Regions from separate parts of the Homo sapiens genome. Here regions 2 and 3 are each linked to region 1. The links come from fine-mapping of genetic effects on gene expression. A gene starts in region 1. Each other region holds a variant in brackets. All regions are shown on one strand. Distances are from middle to middle. Region 1 holds the start of GFI1B (growth factor independent 1B transcriptional repressor). Region 2 overlaps AK8 (adenylate kinase 8). Region 3 holds the start of TSC1 (TSC complex subunit 1).

Region 1 (10,254 bases):
CAAGAAGGAGACAGGCTTGGGGAAATCAGAGAGTTAGGCCATCCAGGCAGAGGGCACGAGAAGTGCCAATGACCTGAATGAGTGAGATTCCAGACAGTATCATTTGAGCATCTGGATCCAACCATGTCAGAAGCTGAAAATTTTCTGTGACATGAATTAATTGTTTCATTGTTATTATTAAATGAGTTTAAATTGTGTTTCTGTACTGGGCACGGTGGCATGCACCTGTAATCCCAGCTACTCAGGAGCTTGGGAGGATTGCTTGAGACCAGGAGTTCAAGACCAGCCTGGGCTACAGAGCAAGACCCCATCTTTTTGAAACTTCCTGCAACTCGCATCTGGAAAAGTGCTGTTATTTGAAAGGGTGCCGACATTGTGAAAAACACGGAGTATTGATCTCTGAAGCTGAGATTTTTGTCCTAAAGGTAAAGGGAAATTATTGAAGGTTTTTAAACCAGGGAAGAATCTTCCTGATCTTTGTTCTTTTTCTTTCTCTAGGCTCAGCTCTCAAAAGTCCTAACCTTCCCTCCCCTTCCTTCAGTCTGCGTTTCTTCCCTAATGAACTTGGCTGCTGTCAGCTCCCTTCAGGGGACCTCCAGCTCTTAGCACAATGCTGTTCTTCTTTGAGACACTTTTCCCTACCTTCCTTCTCCCAACTAACTTAGCCTAGGCATCAACTTAGATATCACTTCCTTCACCAACCCCCCCAAGCCTGGGTCCATTTCCAAATGCCCCAGGCTTCTTTTGTATACTATGTTTATATCACAGCACTTGTCACCCCAAATTGTAAATTTCAGGTTGCTCTTTCCTACCCTCTAGACCAGGAAGGAATATGAAAAGTCCGGCTGTTTTTTGAAACCCCAGCATGTGGTGCCTTGTTGTGGGCACTCGATACACATGTGTTACATAAGGGAGGGAAGGAAAGAGCTGATACACGAAAGGTACCTAATGGTAACTGTTAAATGAATGAATAAACTGATGAATGGGCATGGGAATGCGGAAGCGATTTAGCTCTTGGGAGAGACTAAATGAAGGTGTTGACTCCAGGGCTGCTCACTAAGGGAAGTGCTGGTAGCTTTACAGGCAGCCCTGGAGGGGACACAGAGCATGGGAAGTCCAGGGCTGTAAGGGCCTGGGTGAGGCTGGCTGGGGACTCCTGGCTTCAACTGCTATGCCAGGGGACTGGCTGCCTGGCCACTGCTCTCCCATCAAGGGGAACCTGGGTGGCTTCATCTGCAGGCTGGGTCCCTGGTCTGGGTCTGGGAAGGCTGTCCCTGTGTCAGTTACTCACGGGGGAAGGTAGGGACCCTAAAGTGGGATTACAATCTTAGAACAGCAGTTGAACTGCATGTGCCTGATACAGCCGCTTCCTATTAGAAAACACCCTAAACAAGTGGAGGAAGCGTTTGGTGAGATAAACCATGAAACCATTAAAGATTTAATGGTGAAACCATTAAAGATGTCAATAAAGGCTGCAAACGAACTTAGGAAGCACTTCCATAAAATCATGTTTCACGGAAAATGACACGCTGGTTTACAGTAGCAAAATGTGTGTATGTGTGTATAGGGAAGTGAGAACATGAGGAAACTGGGGACTTGTTGACTTGGAGAGAATATTTTAAGTTTTCTGCATAATGACAAGCAGTTCTAGCTGATTGTTGGCAATGTACAACACCCACAGAATACTCAAGATGTGTCCCTGGCTGGGCACAGCAGCTCGTGCCTGTAATCCCAGCACTTTGGGAGGCTGAGGCAGGAGGATCGCTTGAGGCCAGGAGTTCAAGACCAGCCTATTGTGAATAGTACCACTATAAATGTAAGTGTGCAAATATCTCTTCGATTCTGCTTCCAGTGATTTTGAGTCTATACCCAGAAGTAGATTCACTCACTTTTGACATTGCATTCTCTGAATTTTAGAGGAGACATTTGAGAACTTCTAAATTTCAAATAAAAATAATGATTTAGACCAGACTGGACAGCATAGCAAGACCCCATCTCTAAAAAAAATAAAAAAATTAACCAGGCATGGTGGTGCGCCTGTAGTCCCAGCCACTCAAGAGGCTGAAGCAGGAGGATCTCTTGAGCCAGGGAGGTCGAGGCTGCAGTGAGCTATGATTGCAACACTGCACTCCAGTCTGGGCTACAAAGCCAACTCCTGTCTCTAAGAAAATAATAATAATAATAATAATTTTCTTGAGACAGAATTTTGCTCTTGTTGCCCAGGCTGAAGTGCAATGGTGCGATCTGGACTCACCGCAACCTCTGCCTTCTGGGTTCAAGCAATTATCCTGCCTCAGCCTCCTAAGTGGCTGAGATTACAGGCATGTGCCACCACACCCAGCTAATTTTGTATTTTTTGTAGAGATGGGGTTTCTCCATGTTGGTCAGGCTGGTCTTGAACTCCCGATCTCAAGTGATCCTCGCCTGCCTCGGCCTCTCAAAGTGCTGGGATTACAGGCGTGAACCACTGTGCCCAGCCAATAATAATTTTTTAAAAAGATGTTTCTTTCCACCAAGAGAGACCACAGAGCTGGGAGCAGTGGTCTGCTGTCTGTAGCCTGGGGCTGGGACTGACACCCCAGCATTACTGAGGCCTGGTGACCACAGGGTTGTGTCCTCCTGGCTGGTGCTCCAGGGCTGGCCCAGCAGAAAGACCTCGCCTGAAACACCCCTTTTTCTTCATTTTGAACCTTGGACTTGCAGTTTAAATTGGGGCTTCCTGTCACCAGACTTGTTTTCTTTATGAGGGAAACATAATATCTCCAGCACCCGGGCTGGAAGAGCAGACAAAGCAGCCTAACAGTGCTCTGTTTGTGGCGTTCTCATCTTATGCAAAACCTCCTGAAATAAATCAGTCATCCTGCAAGCGGGAGGAGGCGGGGGCCAGAGGAGGAGGGAGAAGGTGGGGAGCCAGGGGATGGGACGCCCTGCCAAATGGGAAGAAATGCCCCAGCCAGCTCAGCCAAGCTTTACCGCCCTCACTCCCCCCAGCATCAATGGGACACCCCAGAGGCCCCCACTGGCCTCCCCATCACTTTGTCTGCCACCAGAGGGCAGCACACACGGGCTCTGGCACCTGGCCTTCAATCTGTATGGCAGCTTCAGCAGGCCGAGCGTCTCCTGGCCTCCGAACTCACTGCCACACCTCCAGGGTGCCTCTACCCGCTCAAAGGTCATATCTGGGGGAAATGCAAATTTGATGTCTCTTCTGAGATATGACCTCTGCAAGGACAAGAGGGGCCTCTATGCATGTGGCCGGCTCGGGTACTAGGGGCATTGCACCAGCCTGGCTCTCACAAGCCTCAGGGTGCTGAACTTGGGGAGGGAGGGAGGGGAGGAGGCAGCGAGGAGGGAGGCAGGGAAAAAAGGAGGGAGGAAAGGAGGGAAGAGAGAGAGAGGAGAGGAGGAGAAGGAGGGAGGGAGGGAAGGAAAGAAGGAGGGAGGAAGAAGGAAAATAAGGAAGGGAAGGAAGGAGGCAGGGAGGGAGGAAGAAAGAAAGGAGGAAGAGAAGGAAGGAAAAAGGAGGGAAGGAGGGAAGGAAGAAAAAAGGCAAGAGAAAAGAAAGAAGAAAAAAACCAAAGAGCAATGACTTCCCTATGCAAAATCGAGTTTTATAAGTTAGAGCTTTTTCTAACTTTAATTTTTAAAATTTAATAATTTAGCCATCACTTTCTTTTTGTGCAGATGTTATTCAAAATTTCCAGCGAAATTCTGAATTTCTCTGCAGAGAGAAAGCGTGCCGCTCCAAGTGTCGAGGGTTAGAAATGAGAATTCGAAGTCTTGTGTCCTGGAAAGTTTTGATAAGCAAATACGGCTGAGCTCCCGCGCTCTCTTCATTGGCTGCTTGTTCACCGCCAGATTTTGACACAAATAATCAGATTGAAAATCAGGGAGGGGAACAGAAGAGGAAAAACACACAGAGAGACAGAGCAAAAAGGAGAAGTATCTATTTGTGCAAAGAGTCACACAGTTGACAGAGTGGAGGCCAGTCCCGAGAGAGGCTTTGCAGTTCCCACCTCGGGAAGCTCCGGCAGAACCCAGGCGAGGGACAGCTCCGGACAGGTGAGTGCTGGAGGATGCGTTTCTACGCTTTTGTTTTGAAATGTGCCTGTGCGCCGCAGGTGGCTTCACAGCAGGCTCCCTGGCTCCTCCTGCGGTCCTAGGAAAGGTGAGGTGGGCTGGAAAAGCTCTGGAAGGCAAGGAGCCAAGGGAGAAACAGGGTGAGGACGTAGCCTCGTCTGAGCCACTGTGCTAGGAATTGCGCCTTTGCCGGCTGCGCAGAAACACTTTTCAAAATTTGATTTTAGGCTGACAGACGTCACCTTCGGGCACAAAGTCATACCCACAACCCAGCTGTCCTGGGGACCTGGGCAGTGCTCAGGGAGACACACTTCCAAGTGCCTGAGTTGTGTTCCCCCTCGGAGACAGTCCCAGACTTTAGGGACTTGACTAAAGTTCCTGGGACACTTTTTTTTTTTTTTTTTTTTTTTTTTTTGAGACAGAGTGAGACTCTGGAGCGCAGTGGTGCGATTGCACTGAAACCTCTGCCTCCCGAATTCAAGCGATTCTCCTGCCTCAGCCTCCCAAGTAGCTGGGATTACAGGCGCGTGTTACCACGCCTGGCTAATTTTTGTATTTTTAGTAGAGACGGGTTTCACCATGTTGGCCAGGCTGGTCTCGAACTCTTGACCTCAAACGATCCACCTGCCTCAGCCTCCCAAAGTGTTGGGATTACAGGCATTAGCCACTGCGCCCAGCCAAATTCCCAGGACACTTTGAGAGTCAGGCGCTCTCCCCTCCAGAGCCTACTAAGGGGAGATGACAGGGCTGCCCTCTCCCACACACTGCCCAGGCTCCAGGAACAATAGGACCGACCATGGAGAGGTACTGTTTCAGCTCGCCTTTCCCTGTGGCTGTTGTTAGCCCTTTCCACCTATTTTTGGAGAAAAAAAACCAAGTTTAAGTGTTGAGGCATCTGAGGAGACATGCTCACTCTAAAACAGGACTTGTGAAGAGGAGGTCTGCAGAATCGCCGTGGGTATGTGCCCGTGTACATTTTTCCGGGGAGAAAGTCCAGAGCTTTCACGAGTTCTTAGGGAGTAAATTCGATTACAATCTGTGGGCATGAGTCTGGTAGATATTAGAAGCCAGCTGAGCTGCACCTGACCGCCTGGACGCGCCTGCATGTTTCTTAGTAGGCAACAGGCAGAATATTTCTTCCAAGTCTAGCAAAGTGTCAAGTTTCTTGTCCTCGGAAGTATTGCAGAAGGAATTCTTTGGACAAGAAAATGCGTAATTCCCCTTGCTCTTTCTGTCAGAGTTTGGTCTTCCTGAAGAGAGTTCTTGGGGAACATTGGAGAGCTATACCTGGTTTCGGTTTGATTAATGGAATCACTCAAAACCAGCGCAGACCATTGCCCCGAAGCTTTCAGCGGGGCAGGGTAGGGTGGGTGGGAATCTTATTGGACAGTACAAGGATTTTCAAAGGCTCTGGGACCAGATGGCTCCAGATCACCCAGGGAAAACAGCCTGATCAAATGGGATTCTTCACTGTCTGTGCCACAATATCCAGACCCTTGGTTGAAACATCAGCAAACACCACCCCCTCTTAGTCTAGAGGGAGGCTTTTCGTGTGTTCCTTGCCAGGAATTCAAGCCAATGGGAGCTGCTTTAGTCTATAATATAGAGATATGCAGAAAGAGTTTCATTCACTCACTTGTCTTTTTATTTTGATAAAATACATATAACATAAAATTTCCCGTTTTAGCCATTTTCAAGCGTACCATTCAATGGTATTAAGTACACCCACATGGCTGTGCAACCATCACCACCATCCATCCACAGAACTGTTTCATCTCATAAAGCTGAAACTTCATACCTATTACACAGTAACTTCCATTCCCTTCCCCTCACCTCTGGCAACCTCTATCTATTTCTGTCTCTATGAAATTGCCTATTTTAGGGACTCATATAAGGAATCACACAGTATTTGTCCTTTTGTGATTGGCTTATTTCACTTAGCATAAATCCTTCAGGTTCATCCATGTTGTAGCATGCGCCAGCATTTCCTTCCTTTTTAAGGCCGAATAATGTTCAATCATATGTCTAGACCACATTTTGTTTGTTTGTTTGTTTGTTTGAGACAGAGTCTCTGTCACAAAGCTGGAGTGCCATGGTGCGATCTTGGCTCACTGCAACCTCTGCCTCCCGGGTTCAAGCGATTCTCCTGCCTCAGCCTCCTGGGTAGCTGGGATTACAGGCACCCACCACCATGCCTGGCTGATTTTTGTATTTCTAGTAGAGGTGGGGTTTCGCCATTTTGGCCAGGCTTGTCTTGGAACTCCTGACCTCAGGTGATCTGCCCACCTCGGCCTCCCACAGTGCTGGGATTACAGGTGTGAGCCACTAAGTCTGGCCATAGACCACATGTTGTTTGGACATTCATCTGCCATGAAACCTGGGTTGCTTCCACTTTTTGCCTATTGTGAATAGTGCTGCTATAAACATGAGTATGCAGATATCTCTTTGAGTCTCCCCTTCCAATGATTTTGGGTCTATACCCAGAAGTAGATTCACTCACTTTTGACATTGCATTCTCTGAGCTTTGGAGGAGACATTTGAGAACTCCTTCTAAATTTCAAATAAAAATGATGATTTAGACCGGCCTGGGCAACATGGCAAAACCCCGTCTCTACAAAAAATACAAAAATTAGCCAACTGTGGTGGTGCATGCCTGTAGTCCCAGCTACTCGAGAAGCTAAGATGGGAGGATCGCTTGGGCCTGGGAGGTGGAGGTTACAGTGGGCCAAGATCAAACCACTGCACTCCAGCCCAGGTGACAGAGTGAGACTCTGTCTCAAAATAATAATAATAATGATGGTGATGATGATGATGATTACTTTCTGCTGGGGCCCCTGGGCCTGACCTGGGCTCATTTTCCCCCGACTCCTCCACGGACAAGTCTTGTTTTCCCCTTGAATCTTTTTTTTTTTTGACAGAGTCTCGCTGTGTCACCCAGGCTGGAGTGCAGTGGCGCCATCTGGGCTCACCGCAACCTCCGCCTTCTGGGTTCAAGTGATTCTCCAGCCTCAGCCTCCCGAGTAGCTGGGATTACAGGTGCCTGCCACCACACCCAGCTAAGTTTTGTATTTTTAGTAGAGACGGGGTTTCCCCATGTTGGCCAGGCTGGTCTTGAACTCCTGACTTCAGGTGATCCGCCTGCCTTGGCCTCCCAAAGTGCTGGGATTACAGGCGTGAGCCACCACGCCCGGCCTCCCTTGAGTCTTTAAACATAAAGGAAGTCAAAAAGGTTCTCTGTAGCTGACCCTGAGAACCAGCTGAGTCTTACCCAACCCTCCCAAAAGGGGAACCCGAGTGACAAGTCTTTTAGTCAAGGTGGTTCAATCTCTCACTGAAGGTCAACGAATTCTACATGGGATTTTAGAGCAAAAGGGAAGTTTAGAAATCTCTTAGCCCAACCGTCCCTTTTAAGAGATAGGAAAACCAAGCCCCAGGTTGGTGGCTGATGCGGTCACAAGCTCCAGGACCCCAAATCAGACTCAACTCCTTGGGCAACAAAGGGGCCTCATTACAGGGACATCACAGGCCTGTTGACCCAAGTCCAACTGGAAGTTAGGGTGCTGGCTCCTGCCAGGGTGCAGGGTCGCCTGTCTTCAAGAAGCACTGACTGAGATTCTGACTCAGGGTCAGGGGGACTCTATCAGGATCGGGGGTTATGGAGTGATAACAGTGAGCCTCTTTCCGGAGGTCCGATACCATCAAGTCCTCTGTTTTATGAAGAATTCCTGAGCTTCTTTCATAATCTCTGCTCTTAGCTCCTTCTCAGAACGGAGTTCATGTCAATCAAAACCAAGTGGTTGTTAATTAACTACAGTATAGGTGATTGGTTCCTGTTTTTTCTTTAAAAAAAAAACAACTCTGCTAACAGGGGCCAAAAGGAAGTTCACCGGGTGCATTTGGCCCCTCTGTGAGCCAGAGGGCTTGGCCGTGGCGTTGGCTGTGTCACTGTCACTTGCCAAGCTCAGGGGAGAGAACACTGGGGGGAGGCAAGAAAGCGGGTGTGGGGCTCAGGGGAGATCACTAGAAGAAGCATGAGAATCACCTTCCTGAGGCTGGAGAACCCCAGAAGCCAGCCCCATCTTGCCCTGTGCCTAAGTGAAAAGTGCTTGGCCAGGGCTCATGAGCGCTAGAAAGTGTCCTTGTTGTGGGGCCCAGGGTTAGAGTCAGTTGACCTGGGTTCTCCTTAGGCCCTGAGCCCAGGAGAATACCAATGCTTCCTGAAGGGAAGTCTGTCCCTGGCCTGGCCCCACCAAGACTCTTCAGGAGCCATGTGGGTCTTTTAGGAGCCTGGAAAAGACTTGAGGGTCAGAGGGTTTGATTTTTCTCCCTCCTTTTTTTTTTTTTTTTTTTTTGAGACAGAGTGTGGCTCTGTCACCCAGGCTGAAGTGCAGTGGTGGTGTGATCTCGGCTCACTGCAACCTCCGCCTCCCGGGTTCAAGCGATTCTCCTGCCTCAGCCTCCTGAGTAGCTGGAACTGTAGGCAAGTGCCACCATGCCCGGCTAATTTTTGTATTTTTTGTAGAGACGAGGTTTCACTGTGTTGGCTAGGCTGGTCTCGAACTCCTGATCTTGTGATCCGTCCGCCTCGGCCTCCCAAAATGTTGGGATTACAGGTGTGAGCCACTGCACCCGGCCTGATTTTTCTCCCCTCTTGCCCCAGCACCCTGCATTTCCCTCTGTGCTGCAGGCGGTGTTCACCGGGTGCTGTGAGGACCTCTGACAGTGCTGGGTGGCACAGTGGCTTGAGAGTAAAATCCTAACAGGCCAGGAGCCCTGGGTCTGAGTCACTTTCCTCTCTGCACCTCAGTTTTCCCACCTGCAACCTGGGAAGACACTGCTTGACACGGGCACACGAGGGAGCTTCAAACTGCTGTTTTCATCCCTAGCACGTCGGCTCCACTCCCTCTGCAGAGAGAAGCCCATGCCGGGCACTGCCCAGCACTTGGCACCCATTCTGCACCGAGTAACTGCCCACCTGCTGGGCTGAAAGTCAAGAGCATGGAGGCCTGGGGCCAGACAGACCCCAGTCCTTCCCTGCTCACTCTGCCCCAGGGTCCTGAGCCCTCCAGGCTTCAGCTCCTTCTTTATAAAATGGGACAGCAGCGGGACTCAGCATCTGGATTAAGCATCAGAATTAAAGGTGTAATAAACAAGGCAGGCTAAGCAGCCCCCTGCCAGAAGGTTTGACCAGCTCCTCTTCTATCACAGAAGCCTTGGCGAGTACCTTTGGTTCTAGTTGATTTCCTCATAAATATTATGCGCAAAAAAGGATCATCTTTTGATATTTTGATAGGCAAACCATGACCCTCACAGGCCCCCTCAAAACAAAGTGCAAGGGGAACCCCACACCCCCAGTCCTCCTCCTGCTCACTGGGTCCCCTCCTCTCCCCCTAGGGTCTGGCCTCCCCATGGGCTTTCTTGAAGCGAAGAAGAGTTAAAAGCGGGAAGGAAGGGGGGTGTGGGGAGCCCTGGTGAGGGAGGGGGAGGAGGCAAGAGGAGGAAGACGTGTCCCTGGGAGATAAGGCCGTGGGCTGCCCCCGGCCCGAGCCTGTGTTCAGAGAGCCGAGAATCTGACCGCGGGAAGGGACCCCAGAGGCCTTCAAGGTCCTTTCTCCTAATTTTAGAGCTCAGAGAGTACAGGGCCTTGAGCGCGGCCCTGGCTTCTGGGAGGCTGCTGCAGCCCTTGGCACAGGGCTTACCCCGTCCTTTGAATGCACCTGCAGTGGGCTGGGTGCTGGGATGCGGGGGAGCACATGCTGAGCACCTCTCACACTCGCTCCTGATGGATAAAGGTCCTTTCTCGCTCCCCACCATCCCATGTGGTTGGATTGGGATCCCCGTTTAGCAGATATGAGCACTGAGGCTCAGTGATGAGCCTTACAGCAGGCAAGGGCTGGGCCTGAGCTTGGCCCCCTGTGCAGAGCCCCCAGTCCAAACTCTTGATGCCCCCAGGCTCTGGGCCAGGGGGAAGCAGGCCTGGGCATAGTCGGGTCCCTCTTCTGCCTGGCTGTGGTTCATCTCCTTGGGGAAGGGGTGAGTCCCTGGCCCTTTTCCAAGCTGCATTCTCTAATCTCCCACCTCCCACCCTGCTCCTGGGCCAAGGCCTTATCACCCAGGCCCTCACTGCTGTTCTGAAGCAGCTGTGATCCCTCTCCCGCCTTCTCCGGACCCTAT
Region 2 (10,254 bases), 220 kb before region 1:
CCGAACGCACGTCACCTAATTTATCTCTCATCACACCCTGTGAGCAGGTGCCATTGTCATCATCCCCCCTTTAGAGACAGGCGAATTCCGCACCCCCATAAAACGACTCACTCAAGGTCATTATCAGCCCTACATCTATAACTCACGGACTCGTGTCTAGAGAGTTCTGCCTGGCTGATTTTCTCTGTTCTTCTAACTACTCCACAACTAAATGTTTCACAAAGCCATTTCCCCCCCAAATATTTATGTTCTCAAATGTTTATTGCCTCTCTATCATGATCAAGATTTTATGAGCACTCTATATCAGTTGTGAATTAAATACATAATTTCGGAATCATCGCATTCCAGTTTGGTGCTACATTTGTCTCTATTACACCGCAGCAGTTGCCGTGGGCACCCGACAGATGACAACGGAATGCGTGTGTCCAGGGGCAGCCAGAGTGACTGACATTTCAATCCAGAAGCTGCCACGGGGACCTGGTGATTCCCACCGTTAGCGGGAGAGAAGCTTCCACAGCTCACCGGGATGGTCAGAGGGTTCCGGAGCAGGACAAGGCTAGGATGGGCTCCCCCCGTCACCCTCACTGCACCAACGAGGCCGTGTCCAACCCGCTGGCCTCTGGGGAAGGAGGGCCCGCCATCTCACGGCAGGTGAAGAAGACAAGGAGAAAAAGAGGCCATTTTTTTCCTCTGATGAGCAGTACCCACTCTCTTATAGAACAATCCGGGCTATGCCTGGGGGCCTACTGGTTAATCCCATCCTGTATGGGAAATACAGAAAGAATATCGAGCCTGGAACAAAACTGCTACAATTTATTACTCCCTCACATTTACCTGTATGCACTACCTGACTGACCCTCACAGCAACTTCACACAATGTGGACTGCTAATTCCACTTTGCAAGTGAAGAAACTGAGGCTCCGAAAGGCGGCAACCGCAGAGGTGGATCTGGTTCCTGTTTCCAGGCCTTTGCCCCTTCTGTTCCCTCTTGTGGCCAGCCCCCCGAAACACTAAAAATGGAAATAACTGTCATTACTGAAATACTCTATCTGTCTATCAAAATAGAACTGCCGTGGGTAATATAGCCATTCCTGAAAGAAAACATTTAGGGATATTTTAAATCCATCATTGATCCTAAGGGAGGGAAAAAAAAGGTCCCTAAACCTTAAGTTTCATGATGATAAACACTTCCACAGCTTGAGCACGAGGAGGGCAATTCCACTGAACTGGGCCACTAACTTGGGCAGGGCTGCAGTTTTGATGGCTCTGGGGGCTGTCCCTCACATCGCTGTCCTGATGTCCTCATGGTCTGCCATGTGGCATCACCCAGCTTAGATGAAGCCTTTGTTTCTTGGACGTTTCCGTCATTTCCAAAGCATCCATCACTTTCAGTCATCCAATTCTTTATTGCCACCAGTAGAATTATGAGCTCTTGGGCACTTTGGTGGCACCCATTGAAAACAGAAGTGCAACTACAGTTCCCTTCCAGGCTTTTAATCTGGAGAAACAGTCACACGAATACGCGGAGCCACACATACGGCATGTTTATTACAGAACCATTTGCAAAGGGAAAGAAAGAAAAAAGTCTAAATGCTCTTCAGCAGGGCTTCCTACTCATCCATATCCTCATCAGTACTTGGTTTGGACAGACTTAATGTTTGACAAGCTGGCAGGAACAAAACAATGTACCATTATGATTTAAATTCGTATTTTCCATTTTCTTTTTTTTTGTTTGTTTGTTTATGTTTTTTGAGACAGGGTCTGGCTCTGTCACCCAGGCTGGAGTGCAATGGTGCGATCTCGGCTCACTGCAACCTCTGCTTCCCTGGTTCAAATGATTCTCTTGCCTCAGCTTCCCAGGTAGCTGGGATTACAGGCCTGTGCCACCAGGCCTGGCTAATTTTTTTTTTTTCTGCATTTTTAGTAGAGATGGTTTTTCGCCATGTTGCCTAGTCTGGTCTCTAACTCCTGAGCTCAAGTGATCCGCCTGCCTCAGCTTCCCAAAGTGTGGGGATTACAGGCATGAGCCACCGCATTTTCCATTTTCTAATGAGGTTTAGCAACTTTTTCTGTTTTTTGGCCCTTGTGTTTTTTCTTTTGTGAAATCCATGTTCACGTCTTAAAAAAATAAAACAAAACAGCCTTACTGAGATATAATTCACACACCATAAAATTCACTTATTTACAGTGTACAGTTCCAGCCGGGCATGACAGCGCATGCCTGTAATCCCAGGACTTTGGGAGGCTGAGGTGGGAGGATCGCTTGAGCCCCAGAGTTCAAGACCAGGCTTGGCAAAACGGCAAAACCCTGTCTCTACAAAAAAATACAAAAATTAGCCTGGTGTGGTGGTGTGTTGTAGTCCCAGCTATTACGGAGGCCAAGGTGGGAGGACTGCTTGAACCTGGGAGGTCGAGGCTGCAATGAGCTGTGATCACGCCACTGCACTCCAGCCTGAGGGACACAGTGAGACCTGGTCTCAAAAAAAAAAAAAAAAAAAAATAGAAATGTACAATTCCACAGGTTTTAGCACACTCCCAGAATTCTATGATCTGTTCCTGATTTTTCTGCCCATTTTTATATTAAGCATACTTTATCTCATTCATTTATAGGAGCTCTTTATAAATTCTGGATACTAACTCTGTTTTGGTTGCAACTAGCCTATCCCAGATTGAGTCTTTTCATTCTTCAGATGAATGCCTTTGGCTGAATAAAAGTTCTCAATTTTAATGTAGTCAAATTTATTTATTTTCTTTTGTTGTTTACGCTCTTTGGGTCTTATTTTAGGAAGACTTCTGTATCCCAAGATCATAAGATAGTTTCGTATATGTTCTTCTACAAGGTTTTACAGTTTTGTCTTTCACATTTAAGCTTTTAAACTACCTGGAATTGATTGTTACATATATGGGGCAAGTAGCTGTCGAAGGTAATTTTTTCCCACATGGGTACCCAGTTGCGCAGCATCATTTATTGGAAAGTCCATCTCTTCCCCCTGATCCGTGGTGCCACCCCTGTCATTATCAAGTGTGAGTGTTTCCGGGCTCTGTGTTCTGTGTCACTGGTTAGTAGATCTAATTTAGTGCTAACACCTCAATGTCCTAATGGTTTTAAAATAAATAGATATTTGAGAGGGCAAGTCCTCCCACTTTGTCTTTCTTCGGGAATAACTTGATAAATTTTTAACTCTTTGCTCTTCTATGTAAATGCAGAATGAGCACAGCAAGTTGCATCAAAAAGAACCACTACCAACAATTTGGAATTTTAATTCTGATTCCACTGGATCTATGATCAATTTGGGAAGGGGTGACATCTTTATAATATTAGCGTCCCTAACCATGAACGAGACATTGCCTCCCTCTTAGGGATTCTTACATGCCTTTTAATAAACTTACACAGTTTTTCCAATAAAGGGCTTATACATCTTTCATTGTGTTTATTTCAGTGTACACTTTTCTTCTGCTATACGTTGTTAATTTTTTTTTTTTTGGAGATGGGGTCTTGCTGTGTTGCCCAGGCTGCAGTGCAGTGGAATGATTATAGCTCACTGCAGCCCTGACTCCTGGGTTTAAGTGATCCTCCCACCTCAGTCTCCCAGTAGCTGAGATTACAGGCTCAAGCTGCTGTGCCTGGCCATTGTTGTTGATTATTATCTTAGTTTTACATTTTCCAACTCTCTGTTGCCAAAGAAAGTGTAAATAATCTTTGGATCTTTAATTATTGATCTTTTAGTTGGTAACCTTGCTAAACTCTCACTAAAACTATTATGTACTCCATAAATTCTTTGGGGCTTTCTTAATGTAGATAATCATAACACCTGCCAATAATGACTTTTGGTCCTTCCATCCCAAGTCCTAGAGGTTTTATTTACTTTTCTTGTCTTTACTGCACTGTTTAATAATGTTTCATAGAAATGATGATGGGGGAATCCTTGTCTTATGCTTGATTTTAAAGGGCATGCTTCTAACATTTCACCACTAAGACCTATGGTTGCTATAGTTTGGGAAGGTATCTTTTATCAGGTTAAGGAAATTCCCTTCAGTTTATAGCTAAGAATTTTAAAATCATGAATAGATATTTAATTTTATCCAATGCTTTGTCTTCATCTATTGAAATAGCTATATCTCTTTTTCTTTAATTTCTTATTATTGTGAATTCAAGTAATAGCTTTTCTAAAGTTGAATCATCCTTGAATACCCTAATACACAATTGGATTGGATTTGCTAATATTTTGTTTAGGATTGTGGCAACTATATTTACGAATAACATTGGCCTGTAATTTTTCTTATTTATATTATCTTTGGGTTTCACATTAAGACTTTATTAATCTTATGAAATGTATTGTGATGTGTTCCCTCTTTTTCTTTTTCTGTTTTCTGAAAAGAGTTTGTTCACAATGGGAATAATCAATTCCTTGAATACTGTGGTAGATTTCACCTGTAAAAGGCATCTGGGCCTAGTGTTTAAGGGAGGGGAACAATTCATTTTTATTATTCAATTTATTTAATAGTTATGGGACTTTGGATTTTCTATTTCTTTTTTCTTTTCTTTTCTTTTCTTTTTTTTTTTTTTTGAGACAGGGTCTCACTCAGTCACCCAGGCTGGAGTGCAGTGGCACAATCTTGGCTGCCACCTCTGCCTCCCGGGTTCAAGCAATTCTCATGCCTCAGCCACTCGAGTAGCTGGGATTAGAGGCATGTGCCACCATGCTCGGCTAATTTTGGTATTTTTAGTAGAGACAGGGTTTCGCCATGTTGGCAAGTCTGGTCTCAAACTCCTGGCTTCACGTATCTGCCCACCTCAGCTTCCCAAAGTGCTGGGATTACAAGCATGAGCCGCTGCACCTGGCCTCTATTTCTTCTTATGTCACTATTCATAAGATTTTTTTTCCTATGAATGTATCTGTTTTATCTATGTTTCCAAATGTATTGCCATAAAGTTGTTTGTAATATTTTTCCTATCCTTGTAATCTGTTATATTTATGTTACTATATTTATTATCAAAATGTGTTTCATCCTCTTTTTCATTTCAAATATGTCAATCTGTTCTTTCTTTCCTTTCTTTCTTCCTCCCTTTTTCTCTTCTTCCCTCCCTCCCTCCTTCTCTCTCTCTCCCTCTCTCTCTCTTTCTTTCTTCTTTTCTTTTCTTCCTCTCTCTCTCTCTTTTGTTTTCTTTAGAGACAGAGTCTTGTTCTGTAGCTCAGGCTGGAGTGCAGTGGTGCAATCTCAGCTCACTGCAACCTTCACCTCCCCAGTTCAAGCAATTCTTGTGTCTCAGCCTCCCGAGTAGCTGAGACTACAGCTGCATGCCACCATACCTGGCTAATTTTTGTATTTTTAGTAGAAATGGGGTTTTACCATGTTGGCCAGGCTGGTCTCGAACTCCTGGCCATAAGTGATCTGCCCACCTTGGCCTCCCAAAGTGCTAGGATTACAGGAATGAGCCACTGCGCCTGGCCATTCTTT[CT/C]TTTTTAATTGATCAATATTGCTAGAGATTTGTCGGTTTATTAATTTTGCCAAGGAATCCACTTTTGCTCTACCCAAGCTCTGTTAACTATTCCATTGGTTTCTGTTCTCTCTCCAGCTACTCTTTGAGTTTAGTAATTTTTTAACCTAGGTCAGCGGCTTAGATCATTAATTTTCAACTGTTCTTCTTTTGAGATTTATTTTTCACTGAATACCATTTATGTTCCTTCAATGTGTGACTCCTTTCAATTAAAAAATCAAAGTAGATGATGTTGGAGTGACCCCAGGAAGATGACTAGCTAGAGGCCTCTAGTCAGCTCTCCCTTCCACAAAGACGGCCAAACAGTGAATAAACAACTATATTTAAATGAAAATAAATACAGGAGTGAGTCCTGGAGTTCATCAAAGGAGTAACAGAAACCCTGGTGAGCAAAGAAACTCTGGATAGCCACATAGAAAACGGAAGGAAACAATCCCAGCACTTTGGGAGGCTGAGGCGGGCGGATCACCTGAGGTCAGGAGTTCCAGACCAGCCTGGCCAATATGGAGAAACCCTGTCTCTACTAAAAATACAAAAATTAGTCAGGGGTGGTGGTGCATGTCTGTAATTCCAGCTACTTGCACCCAGGAGGCGAAGTTTGCATGAGCTGAGATTGTGCCACTGCACTCCAGCCTGGGTGACAGAGCGAGACTCTATCTCAAAAGAAAAAGAAAAAGAAAAGAAAAAGGAAGGAAACAACAGGACTCCACTGCCCATCCTCCAGCCAGAGTCAGCCAGGAACCAGGAGGAACGTCTTCCTACAGCGAAAAGGTAGAAAAGAGGATTCCAGCAGCTCCCACCACCCTTTGGACACCTGCTCACCACTGGGGTCCTCACAGGCCCTATGCCCATGCAGAGAGCTGTCTAGTATCTACACAGCTGTGCTCCCCTAGAGAAGGAGGTGACACAGTACCCTGCCACTGTGGCCAGCCGGCTGCTGTATGACACCATCTTGAAGCTGGAGCTACCGCTGGAGTGTGCCTTGCTTTTGGGGGAAAGTCACAACAAATTTTAAAGAATTGATATCATATCAAGTACCTTTTGTGACCACAATGGCATAAAACTAGAAATCAATAACAAGAGGAACTTTTGAAACTGTACAAATACATGCAGATTAAACAACATGCTCCTGAATGACCAATGGGTCAATGAAGAAATTAAGGAGGAAATTAAAAAATTTCTTGAAACAAAGGAAAATAGAAACACACACTCTTCAATTAAGTTTAGCCTAAGGCTGCCATCTTACATATTTTAAGTTTGGCCTAAAGGTTGCTTTATACACAGTAAGCTGTAATCTAACTAGATGCGTAAACAGACTGTAACTTATTTTTGTACCTATCACCAAGTTTTGGCCAACTAAGGCAGCCAACTGTTCAAACCGTATTCAAATAAGGCAAATGCCAAGCTATAATCAATCCAGTTGTTTTTGTACCTCGTTTCCATCTTCTGTATGTCACATCATTTTCCTTTTTCTGTCTACAAATCCACTCCACCCACTTGGCAGCGCTGGTGTCATTCTGAGCCTGTTCTGGTTTGGGGGGCTGCCCAATTCATGAATTGTTCTTTGCTTAATTAAAGTCTGCTGAATTTAATTTGTCTAAAGTTTTTCTTTTAACAATCCCAAAGCCTACAGGGTACAGCAAATGCAGTATTAAAAGGGAAGTTTATAGTGATAAACACCAACATCAAAAAAAGTAGGAAGATTTCAAATAACCTAATGATGCATTTCAAGGAACTAGAAAAGCAAAAACTAACCCAACCCCACATGAGTACAAGAAAATAAATAATAAAGATCAGAGCAGGCTAGGAGCAATGGCTCATGCCTGCAATCCTGTCCTAGCATTTTGGGAGGCCAAGGTGGGTGGGTTGCTTGAGTCCAAAAGTTTAAGACCAGCCTAGGCAACATGGTGAAACCCTGTCTCTACTAAAAAATAATTTAAAAAATTATCTGGGTGTGTTGGTGTGCACCTATAGTCCTAGCTACTCAGGAGGCTGTGGTGGGACAATCACTTGAGCCTGGGAGGTAGACGTTGCAGTGAGCTGAGATCACACCACTGCACTCCAGCCTGGACAACAGAGCAAGACTCTGTCTCAAAAACACAAAAACAAAAACAAAAAACAAAAAAACAAGATCAGGGCAGAAATAAAACTAAAAGAAAAATACAAAGATCAACAAAATTAAGTCAGTTTTTAACAAAATCAATTAGCTTGATTAACAAGAAAAAAACAGAAAAGACCCAAATAAATCAGCAACAAAAAAGGACACATTACAACTGGTACCACAGATATACAAAGGCTCATTAGAGACTATTATGAACAACTATGCACCAACAAACTGGAAAATCTAACAGAAATGAATAAATTCCTGGACACATACAACCTACCAAGATAGAATCAGAAGAAATAGTAAAACTGAACAAACCAATTATGAGTGACAAGATTGAATCAGTAATAAAAAGTCTCCCATCACAGAAAAGCCCAGGACTTGATGGCTTCACTGCTGAATTCTACCAGACATTTAAAGAAGAGCTAACTGATAGTAATGGCCAAAACCACAATTCCTTTTGCACCAACCTAATACCATTTCTTCTCAAACTTTTCTACAAAATAGAAGAGGAGGTAATTCATCCAAATGCATTCTATGAGGCCAGCATTACTCTAATACCAAGGCCAGACAAAGATACAGCAAAAAAAGAAAACTATAGGCCAACATCCTTGATGGACACAGAAGCAAAAATCCTCGACAAAATACTAACAAACTGAATCCAGCAGCACATTAAAAAGATCATTCACCAGCTGGGCGTGGTGGCTCACGTCTGTAATCCCAGCACTTTGGGAGGCCAAGGCGGGCAGATTGCCTGAGTTCAGGAGTTTGAGACCAGCCTGGGCAACACGGTGAAACCGCATCTCTACTAAAATGCAAAAAATTAGCTGGGCGTGGTGGCACGCACTTGTAGTCCCAGCTACTCGGGAGGCTGAGGCGGGAGAGTTGCTTGAGCCCAGGGGGCGGAGGTTGTAGTGAGCCAAGATCATGCCACTGCATTCCAGCCTGGGCAACAGAGCGAGACTCCATTTCAAAAAAAAAAAAAAAAAAAAAAGAGAATTCACCATAATCATGTGGTGCATCTCAGGGATGCAAAGATGGTTCGATATATGCAAATCAATAAATGCAATAGATCACACCAACAGAATGAAAGACAGAAACCACACGATCATCTTAATAGATGCAGAAAAATCATTTGATAAAATTCAACATCCCTTCTTGATAAAAACCCTTAACAAGCTGGGGACAGTGGTGCACACCTGTAGCCCCAGCTACTCGGGAGGCTGAGGTGGGAGGATCACTTGAGCCCTGGAGTTCAAGACCAGCATGGCCAACATAGCAAGATGAGACCCTGTCTCTAAAATAAACAAGCAAAACAACAACAACAAAACCCTCAACGAACAATGTATAGAAGGAGTATATACCTTAACACAATAAAGCTCATATATATGGCAAACCGATATCTAACTTTATACTGAATAGGAAAAAGTTGAAAGCTTTTCCTCTAATAACTGGAATAAAACAAGTATGCCCACTCTCATCGCTCTTATTCAATACATTACTGTAAGTCCTTGCCAGAGCAATTAGACACAAAAAAGAAATAAAGGTCATCCAAATTGGAAAGGAGGAAGTCAAATTATCCCTGTTTGCAGATAGCATGATTTTGCATATAGGAAACCCTAAAATGCTCTACCAAAAAACTCTTTGAACTGATAAACACATTTAATAAAGTTGCAAAAGACAAAATTAACATACAAAAAATTAGTAGCATTTCTATACACCAAGAATAAACTGGTGGAAAAAGAAATCAAGAAAGCAATCCCAATTACCATTGTTACAAAACAATACCTAAGAATAAATTTTCTTTTTGAGACAGGATCTTGCTCTGTTGCTGAAGCTGGAGTGCAGTGGTGTGATCATGGCAAACTGCAGTCTTAACCTCCCAGGTTCAAGCAATCCTCCCACCTCAGCCTCCTGAGTAGCTGGAACAACAAATGTGCTCCAACATGCCTGGCTGATTTATTTTTATTTTTAGTGGAGATGAGGTCTCTCTGTGTTGCCCAGACTGGTCTCAAACTCCTGGGCTCAAGCAATCCTCCTGCCTTGGCCTCCCAAAATGTTGGAATTACAGGTGTGATCCACTGTGCCTGACCTCCTAAGAATAAATTTAACCAAGGAAGTAAAAGGTCTCTACAAGGAAAGCTATAAAACACTGGTGAAAGAAATTAAAGAGGTCATACACACAAAAATTGGAAAGACATTCCATGTTCATGGATTGGAAGAATTAATATTGTGAAAGTGACCATACTACCAAAAGCAATCTACAGATTCAACATAATCCCTATCAAAATACCAATGAAATTCTTCACAGAAATAGAAAAAAAAAACTTAAAATTTATATGAACTATGGAACATTCCAAATAGCCAAAACAATTTTGAGCAAAAAGAACAAAGCTGGAGGCATCAAATATACTACAAAGCTATAGTAACCAAAATAGTATGGTACTGTCATAAAAACAGACACATAGACCAGTGGAACAGAATAGAAATCCATAAATAAGTCCATGTATTTATAGCCACTGACTTTTGACAAAGGTGCTAAGAACATTCAGTGGAGAAGGGGCAGTCTCTTCAATAAATGGAGCTGGGAAAACTGGATATATCTGCATGCAGAAAAATGAAACTAGATCTCTATCTCTCCTCATAGACA
Region 3 (10,254 bases), 36 kb before region 1:
GATTTATCTGAAATTACAGGTGAATATTCGAATTTTTCAAAAACAAGTGCTGTGATATGTGGCCTAGACACTACCCTCTACGACTCCTCAGGACTGTATGTAACATAAAATAGGTGACCGCATATCAATTTGCCTAAGATAATTTTGTACACATTTGTCTATGATGTAAAAATGTACTGCATGTGTAAATGAAGGCAGATGTCTCTTCACTATAACTTGTTTCCTATATTCAATTTTTTATCCATAAAAATTCAAGGACAATTCAGACACAGGTCCAGGCATGGATAGACTATTTTATTATCAGGTACAGTTAGATAGAGCAGAAATGTTACACTGTTAAGTTAATGTTCCGCTCTGGCTCAGGAACTCTCAGGTGACTTCTTAGGGTAATATTCTATCAAGTGAACCAAGACGCCTTCAGCACAAATGCATCTAAAAAGGGTAAGATACTTGCTCCCATTCTCTCTTCCTATCAGTGCCTAGAAGGAAGGAAAAAAGGGTAGGAAATAACTACTTACTATGTGAGAGTAAAACAGCTGATGGTAAAACCTGCCAACATGTGTAGTCATGTGTGATTGAATAGGTCTTAGTAGTTGGAGTCCCTCTCAAGGACAAACTGGGGCAGGAGAGCTCCAACTTGCCAGATTCTCCATTCAGAATTTCTGCCATCAGGGGCCTTGATGGATGGTTTGCTAAAGCTTATAGCCTATCCCAAAGGTGAAGAATCTTCTAGTAACTTAAGTGTAAGGCCAGAGCTTAATTTTGGTAAGGCGTATCTCTTCAATAAATAATGCTTACGTTTTGACTTTCTATTAACATGAACAACATTATTTACTAAGATAATACAGGCCAAACAGATACCATGTATATTTCAAAAAGACACTACGCAGAGCTTCTCCTAAAAGAGATACAAGCAAACTGTGAGATATCTTTAGGTTTCAGGTTTATAGGACCAAAATAGAAGTATTCTAGGGAAGAAGGGTATAGTTTGATAGTCTAGGGCAGTGGTTCTCAAAATGTGGTCCTGGCACCACGAGCAGGAGCCTGGGTATTTGTTAGAAATGTAAATTCTCAGGCCTTTCACTAGATCTCGGAATTGGATACTTTGGGGGTGGGGCCTTCTAGGTAATTCTGACGTCCACTAAAGGTTCAGAACCACTGGTCTAGGAAAAAGAAGGATGAAGGTAAAAAACATTCATTCATTAATATACCTCCTTTGAGGTTCAAAAGGAAAAAAATATATAGAGTGCATAAACCTTGGGGAAAAGGCCCAGTGGAATTCTGCCAGGTGCTAAAGGTACCAGCACAGACCGAATGCCAAGCCTGACAAGCACGTAGCAGGTTACATACCTGGGTACACTACAGAAATTTAACAAAGTAATTTATAACCCAGACAGTACATAAGGCCACCTTCTGACTTGGGCCTTTCCTGACTACTAGTTAAAAAAAAAAAAAAGTTTTTTAATAAAGCCTAAGTCCATTTTTAGAGCAGTAATCTATCTAAAATGATCAGCTGGGTTTCAAGCTGCGTCCATAAATTACCTGAAGCCATATCCAAAATCCCATGTCTGTATGAATTTTTTTGGTGATGATGGGACATAAAGGGTAGAAGAGAAATTTGGTCCATAGCTTCCCACAGATTTTCAGAGGGCAACTGAGTCCACACACCTTCCCACCACCACCAAAGTTAAGAACCACTGACCTGACCTGTGAGTTAATTTATGAGGTCAGCAGATGAAGCAGTTTATCACAGTGGAAGACTAAATGTTTGGGCTGTGGAGTCAACCAAAAAGGTTCATATCCCAGCTTAGCCACTGAATAAGTGACTATAGGCAACTTACTCTAAGCCTGCTTCCTCTTCCTATCCTGCCTCTTAAGGCTGTAAGAAGTTAATGGGGTATCAGACATGTAAAATACCACAGTGTTTGGCACATGAGTACTCAAAAAATATAAACTTTATTATAACAATATTACTACTTCACAAAAATGGATTGCTGGGTACATAATGCTTAGCAGTCTATCCATTTAACAACTGGTATTTGAAACATTGATACAACCATTGTATAACTTAAAATGGATACAGTTCAAGTTTGTTACTATGCTCTGTGAACTACTCAAAGTAGCAGAGTCTTAATGATTGCAGACATTAAGGTCACTGCCTCTGTTCTTCCTACAGCTCCCCTCTGTGTCTTCCATCACATCACCCACAGAAGGGCAAAACTGTCCTTTGTTACTCCAACACTTCTGGGCCTCTACTGCCATCATATTTACTTAAGAGAGTGACCTGTGAGTTGTAGGGCAGTAACTACTATGCTTTATTTTGGACTAAAGCATGGTTTTTAAGACATTTTACTTATTAGATGTAAATCTGAATTCATTCAACCGTAAAAAGTATTGTTATCTTTTGCTGATTCCATGTTCATAATAAAAGTTAGCACTGAACGAGAGAAAGGACAAGAAGAAACTGACAAGGTCCTGAGACAGTGTATTTTATACACAGTATATAAAATTTGCATTTTTATTCTCTCCCATGAAAACAGACATAAAGTTACTAATTTCTAGCAACTACAGTCTTAAAAAGTAAACCAGAGAAAGAATAATCTCAAACTGCTGACAGTTTACCTCTTTCAGATGAATTTAAATGGAGAATGAGTATTTCATGCTACCCAAATTATATTAGTTACCAATTCATGATCTGAGATTAAAAAAAACAAACTCAGTGTTTGAGTGTATACTACATATACACATTTCAAGCAAACAGCCACAGATTTTAACGCTATTAAGTACACTTTTCTTTCACGCCTTCAGCTACTTAAATGACAAAACCAATGCAAAGACTAACCTTTCAGAGATTTATAATATGGGAAACTTATAGGGAATTACCTTTTCAAAGAGTATTATGATGTAAAGGAAAGGATAAATGATAAACAGATCTTCACCCAACAGGGTAGGCTCAAAGTCACCAATTTGCTTGGTTTTTATAAAACCATTAACAGGTTGACTCAATCGATTTAGTCAGAATATTTAAATGACACCCCAAAGGACTTTAAATCACAGAAATGTAGGCCTAGAAATACTCATTAATTTACATTCCAACTTTTACTTCACAGATGAAGACACAGGCTCACAGAACTTAAGTGACCCACTGAAGGTCAAAAGCTATCTGACTCTCTAGAAAAGCCTGAAATGGTTGAGATATTGCTATATTTGGCTCATCGGCATTCAAGAATATCCAATTAATTCCAGGAAAAGCTAATTTTAGTTCACTATGGCCCTGGAACCCAGAAATAAACATACCTGTAGCCAAACAAACTTCAAATGAAGACAGAGCTATAAGAACAAGTCAGCTCTAATTCAGAGCCCAAAATTCACCCACCACTACACAAATAAAAGGCTACAAGCTATTTTAAGAAATACCTCTGTGATAAATAATAAATGAAAATAGCCAGAATGATACTTGAAGCCAGTGGTCCTCAACCTCCGGTGCACATAAGAATCAGTCTTCTTCCAAAATATATATACAAGGTGTCCGAATATGTAGGTCTACCTAGTATAGTGCCAAATATCTGTACATCAAGGTTCTCATGAGCACTAGGGTTTCAGATCTCGTTTCCACCAAGTTCATTATTCTGCAAACATTACATATAGAGGTATATATTAGATTTGCCCTAGTAAGACTGTTAAGTTTCATCTCACGAATGAAACCAGGCATGCACAGAAGGCATCATATTACACCACAACAGTAGCAGTATCAGTTTTTACTCTTAACCCAGTGAGGAAGAGGACAACTGAGTCACAGGACCTGAAGCACTCTAATTTTATGGAAACAAGAAGGCTGGTAGCCACCTGCTTTCTAACCAGGAATTTAGGAACGTACCAAGTGTTTATGACACCAGGAAATGCATGCAGCAGAGAAAGTTTACATCATCTGCCCTTCTAGGCACGTGATATAAGAGTGTTTTGGATAAGATATTAACTTTAGTAAGAGGATATTTTCCGTTTACATCTTCTATAAATACCCCTTAAGTTTACACCAGGTGGTTAGAGGAAGATTCTGCAGCTCCCTAGGGCAATAGCAAAGAATGTTTCACTGTTTCTGAGGAGCCTCATTTGCCTGATGCATGACTGTTAAAGGTGCATTTCCCTACACAACCCTAAATCAGTTTTCACATTTGCATATTCCAGATTTACTCAGGAATGTTCAATTTAAGAATCACAGGTGGTTGCTCGGTAAATCAAAGGCTCCCCAAAGATTAGGTTTTATAATGCTTCCTGAAATTTACAGCTCCACTTTGCCGGCCTGTTTGAATTCAGATGACTCCAAGTTGATCCCAAAATTATAAATCAAAGTATCTCAGAAGAGTATTATTCTATTTTAGCACTTTTATAGCTTACTCTATGCAACGTGAAGTGTTATTTGTATGCTTTCTATTTAAAAAAAAAAAAAAGCCAGCAAGGATTTTAGCAGGACTTCTTTCTTCAGTAAACTCATCAGTTTTATTAAACTATCAAATACTTTTTAGCCTAATTTAGACTAACAAGTTCACATGCACAACACTGCCATCCCAAACAAAAGCTAAGGCGGATAAGCCAAGTGCATCCCCCCACTTCAACATTAAACAGACACACGTGCATAAACCTTGGCTAAATGATAAATTTTAATCACTTACAGGCCAGCTTTGATCAAATAACAGATAAATTTAAGAGTCATATCTTTGGAGTCAGTCAGATCCCAGCAGTTCCAGTCCTGGCTCAGATACAATTGGGGTGTGAACTTAGGCAAAGTACCCTGCTCTCTCCGGGCCTCAGTTTCTTCATTTGAGAAGATTGGAGGTGTTAACAGTGGCTGCCTCTTCTCTTTGTCGTGAGGACCAAAGGAGATAATGACTGCCAAGCACTTTCACAGTGCCTGGCACACAGAGAGCACTCCATTAACGTTAGCTGTTGTTCTTAGGAGGACCGCGTCCCCTCCCAAGTCCTCACCACACATCCAAAACACACAAAGCAAAACTCTTTAACAGGAAACACAAAGAAAGAGCTTTAATTCTACAAGGTCCCTCCGATTGCAGGCTCTTCATCCTCCAGTTCCTCAAATGAATGAATGAACGCCTAGGAGGGGCTCTGCAAATAGCTGTCTCTTAGGAATCCCCTTTGCCCACTTTAAGGTAACTGTCTTTCACCACCAATTAAACACCCACAAGTACACCCAGAGCGAGTCATGCAAATTTCAGCGGAGACACCGAATCCAGGCGAGTCCTTGATCCCCACAGGCGACCTCCATTCATTCTCCACGCCCCTATACCCCGACCCCTCTCTTTAAGTTCTGGGACCAGCCCCACCCTCGCGACCCTTCCCCTCCCGCCAAGCGTCTCTACCCTGCCCTCCGCACCTAGCGT[G/A]AACCTGTCACCCCACCAAGTGAGGGACTGACGAAGGGGCCCACCTCGCCCCTGCCCGAGGGACCGAGGCCCAGGGTGCAGCCGTCCCCTCGGGGGCCAAGGAGGGGCGAAGTGCTCCGTCCGGCTCGCCTCTCCTCCCCAGGGACCCGCCAGTCCCGGCCGGGCCAGCCGGAGATAGCGTGTAATAAGAGGGAGGGGAGAGCTCTCCGAACCCCCCTTCCCCGGGATCCCTACCAAGCAAGTGAGTCTCTTGCTCCAGCCCCTCCGAGCCTCCCCGGCTGGAGTCATGGTGCCGGGGCTGCCCCAGGAAGCCCCCATAAAAAGGAGGGGGAGACACCCCCATACTCACCCACCGTCTCCTCCCCCTCAGCTGTTTACCTCACAGTCCCTCCAGCCTACAGGGCGCCGCCATCTTGGACGTACAGCACCTCCCCCGTCGTGAAAGGGCCAAGGCCGACGGCGGCCTCCGCCACGAAAAAGAGTCCCCCTCCGGACCTCCCCTCCTTCTCGAAAGGAAGGATAGACGGCCGCGCTCGGCAGCCCCGCCGGAAGGAAGAGGCTCTTCCACTCATAACTGACGATGTGGGTTGGACGAGAAAAAAAGTAAGGAGGGTTTTTATGGAGGGGGGCGGGGCCGGGCGGAAGGATCCGAAAGGAGGCTGCGAAGAGATCTTGTGACTCCGCGAAGGAGGCAAAAAGAAGGGCCGGCGCGGCGGGAGGAGCCACGCGAGAGCCCGAGGGGGCGGGGCGGGCGGTCACGTGACTGGCGGGCGGGGGGACGCGGCGGAGAGGCGTAAACAAGCTGGCGGCGCCTGGGTGTGGTTGGAGCGCCCTGCCCCTGCCCCCCGAGTCGTTTCTGCCCTTCGCTTGCGTGGCGCCCTCCGAGGGTCTCTCTGTGGGCGGCCTCAGAGCAGCGATCCTGTTTCCCAAGGAGCTGCTGGGGCCCGCGTGGGTGAAGGGCCTGCTTGGGAGCTTTGGAGTTGCAGCTCACCTGGGAAGGGGCGGAAAGCTGCGGGCCAGGGCAGCCCTCCTTCCTGGGCTAAACATTTTCAGAAGCCCGCCTCCGGGATTGCGGGGGACCCCCCTGGCTTCTGCCTTCAAGTAGCTCACACTTCACACCTACTCATGACATCTAGGGGAAACCAGCCCTAATAGGAGACAGCTTGAAAATCAGAACGCCTTATTCCGTTTCCTGCTGAAACAAGGCTTTAAGTCCTCCAAGCCTCAGTTTCTTCCTCTGTGAAATGGGCATAATGACATCTGTGACGTGAAGAATCAAGGAGATGAAGTATGGACAGCGTTTAGCCCAGAGTCCTGCGCCTAGTAAATGCTCACTCACTAGATAGGTGGCCTTTATTGCGAGGCTGAGTATGATGGGCTCCATCCAGCACGAACACAAAGCCCTGTGAGAGGAGGCAGAGTGAGATGAAGTCGAACTGTGGGATATGAAAGGCATTTTGAAGGAGTAGGCATCAGGTTGGGTTTTAAAGGAAATGTAGGTTTTGTGAAATACTAGGTCGGTGCAAAAGTCATCACGGTTTTTACCATTAAAACCGCGATGACTTTTGCATCAACCTAATAGAACCAGGCGAGGCGGCTCGGGAGAGAAGGCCATTCCAGGCAGAGGGAACCAAAGGAGCAAGAGCCTAGGGGCAAAAAAGTGTTGGGTGAGTTATGGGAATAACAGGTTTTGTCATGGGAACCAATTGGGTCACAGTGCAAGGCAGCCATGGTTAAGGGGGGCCAGGTGTGTGAGTAGCCAGCACCGTGGGTGCCTTCAGAATTCTGAAAAGGCCCTGGATGGTATCGGGTAGAGCCGCTGCTAGTCAGTATAGGGCCTTGGTGAGAATTAGAAAAATGGCACCCCTGGGCTGTATTTTGGCCCCTATCCACCAGCCCCAAACCCTCCTGGGCCCTTGAGCAGTGAACAACCTTTATAACCATACGTCTAGAGCCACGAAGGCTTAGGAGGGAGGTGAAAATTGAACTGATGATTCCTCTGTTCTAACACAGTCGCTGGGGGGAAGCTAAGAGTTCTAGATTCAAACAGACCAGAGTTTGAATGTAGGTTTCAGCCATCATGTTCTAACTGGATGAGCCTTAGTCTCCTCACCTGCAACATAGGGCTAATAATAATGCTAGTTCATGGGGATTTGGGGTGAAGTCAGTGAGTCATTAAGCTCTAAGTGGCACAGAGCCTACTCCAGTTAATGTTATTTTTGATAACTGTTAAGTGCCAGCTGTCAGCATCCATCACTTCCAGAAACGGGTCCACCAAACACTAAATTCTTCTGTGTCACCACCCAAGCATAGTCTGCATGGGGTCCAGAGATGGAAAGGTCGAGGGAAACGGGGAAGGGTCTGGGTTCTCTCAGTTCCACCAATCTGCAAACTACTTTACAGGAACAGACTCTTCCCTTTGCATTCACACCAGGGAAGGGATTCAAGATTTCTGAAATCTTCAGAGATTTCTGAGACCACCAGTGATGGGAGACCTAAGGAGGAGGGCAGGGGGAGCAGCACTGCTCTGGAGCTCTGACCCAGGAAGCCCCCCCACACCCTGACCTTCCTTGGCTCCATGACCTCATCCTGCAGGAATGCATTCTGCCATGGAGGAGAGCAGCCATAAGCAGAGCTCATCAACTGCTCACTTTCCAGGGGGCCATAACCACATTGTCACTGTTTCTACACTGTCTGGAAGAAGAATGGGCATTGTTACCTCAATATGGGACCACCAGGGGCTTGCAAGAAGAGGCTGAAGGTGACAGGCAGAGACAGCTCTACTACCATCTCCTGCCACTTACCAGGCTGGGCCACCTAGATGTTTTCTGCTTCTCTGGGGTTGATTTTTGTCATTTGCTCAACAGACACTATTCAGACCACTACCTTCCATACACCACCCTGGAGCCTCCCTGTGACGGGGCTTCCTGACCGGCCTGTCTGAGCATGAAAGGGCTGAGCCCTCCATAGGCGGGCGTGCTGACAGGATGCACGTGGTGGAGGACATCTGCTGCATTTGGCTGTGTGACATCTCCCCCTCGCCTTCTGAACAGGTGAACCGCCCATCCTCAATTCTTTCAGTGCTGATGGTCCTCACAATCACAGTACCAGCCCCAGGCCACAGCAGGTGGACCAGGCCTGGCCAATCTGAGATGCCCATCATGGAGCTTGTTAAAAGAAAGCTTAAGACAAGTTCAATTAGATTAAATTTAATCGAGCAAAAAAAAAAAAAAAAAAGAAAGAAAAAGAGAATTCATGAATCAGGCAGCCTCTAGAATCAACAGATTCAGAGAGACTCCCGGGGTCAGAACAAATTTATAGACAAAGTAAAGTGGCCTGGCGCAGTAGCTCACTTCTGTAATCCTAGCAATTTGGGAGGCCAAGGCAGGTAGATGGCTTGAGGTCAGGAGTTCGAGACCAGCCTGGCCAACATGGTGAAACCCTGTCTCTACTAAAAATACAAAAATTAGCCAGGCGTGGTGGCGGGTACCTATAATCCAAGCTACTCAGGAGGCTGAGGCAGGAGAATCACTTGAACCTGGGAGGCAGAGGTTGTAGTGAGCTGAGATTGTGCCACTGCATTCCAGCCTGGGTAACAAAGAGAGACTTGGTCTCCAAAAAAAAAAAAAAAAAAAAACTAAACTAAAGTGACATACAGGAATCAGAAGTGAGGTACAGAAACAGTGAGATTGGTTGCAGCTCGGCGTTTGCCGTATTTGAACAGTTTGAACACTCAGCAGTCTATGAGTGGTTGAAGTATGGCCGCTGGGATTGGCCAACACTCAGCTATTGTTACAAGTGCATACTACTAAGTTAGGTTTTCAATTTTGCGTGCCTATTAAGCTAGGTTACGGTTCGTCCACAAGGACTCAAATATAAAAGTACGGAGTCCTTCTCAGGCCATATTTCATTTGCTTTAACAAGCTGAAATGGTTGGTCTACAGTGGACCTGTGACTTGAGCTGGACTAGAGTGCTCCTCTGGGTCTTTATAGATGGGTGTTTAAAAAAAAAAAGCAATTTTTCTCTTTCCTTTGGGGTCACTAAACTGCGATGAGGAAGCTGTGGCCTCTCCCTTCCCCCGTCCTACAGCAAGGTGTGTGACAAGTCGAGTTAAAGAGTGAAAGAGACAGAGATGGAAAGAGAAATTCATGCTGCTATCTCCTGCATTTCCGGAGTCCCTGAAACCAGCTTTGCCCTGGCCTTCCAAGTTCCATGAAGCAATAACTATTTTGGCCAATGCTAGTTTCATTGGATTTCTGACCCTCATCAACAAAAGGCCTTCTGGATGTGGTGGGATTCAGAGGCCTTTGGAAGGACACCACCAGCCAAAAATATTTCCCACTCTGTGCCCGAAGTTCATCCGCTTGAATTGCCTTTTGGCTTTAGCTTTCAGCTCTCTGTGCAGCAGCCTCCTGGCCAGGTGCCCTGCCGTTGGTGGGCAACCCCCGCAGGATGGGGTCTGAGCTTCTGCTGGCAGCCCCCAAGGCCCTCTGCAGCCCCGGCCTCTCTAGCGCATCAGTTTCCCCTTGCTTTCTAGCACCGTGTCCTCCAGTACCAAGGAACGCCCAGAGGCTTCACACCGCCCTACCTTGGCTTAGGCCGTCTCCTCTCCCTCCGCACCAGATGGCCTCTGCAGCCTGTGCTGGTCATTCTCCGTTTGCCCTTCTCTGTCTGGGCTCCCCTCTGAGCCACACCCGCTAAGCATGTCCTCTCCCTCCTCTTGGATTTGACCAAAGTGCGGCAGGGTCAGGTGAGCGAGGAAGAGCCTTCCCACCTGGCCTGGCCTGGCCGTGAGGCACAGCTCCTGCTGCGTGGCCTGTCTCACCCGTGGTGTTAGTAATGGTTTCCCCCACTCAC

Evidence for each region.
Region 2: its variant is fine-mapped to the expression of GFI1B in whole blood (TOPMed, PIP above 0.99).
Region 3: its variant is fine-mapped to the expression of GFI1B in testis (GTEx, PIP 0.94).

The regions. Positions count from the first base shown.
Region 1 is chr9:132,974,780-132,985,033 of GRCh38, forward strand. It overlaps GFI1B (growth factor independent 1B transcriptional repressor), which reads left to right and starts at 3,915. Exons shown (of 7, transcript NM_001377304.1): 1 at 3,915-4,062.
Region 2 is chr9:132,756,717-132,766,970 of GRCh38, forward strand. The region is part of intron 11 of AK8 (adenylate kinase 8); the gene reads right to left. Among named protein-coding and RNA genes, the nearest start is that of GTF3C4, 91 kb to the left of the region's middle. The variant CT/C (reference allele first, on the strand shown) is at 5,461.
Region 3 is chr9:132,938,798-132,949,051 of GRCh38, forward strand. TSC1 (TSC complex subunit 1) reads right to left here and starts at 5,819. Exons shown (of 23, transcript NM_000368.5): 1 at 5,746-5,819. It overlaps MIR548AW (microRNA 548aw), which reads left to right and starts at 6,910; the gene lies at 6,910-6,974. It also overlaps a transcript of GFI1B not described here. RefSeq lists silencers at 5,427-5,486, 5,547-5,606, 6,137-6,216 and enhancers at 5,691-6,424, 5,737-6,036, 6,397-6,536. The variant G/A (reference allele first, on the strand shown) is at 5,397.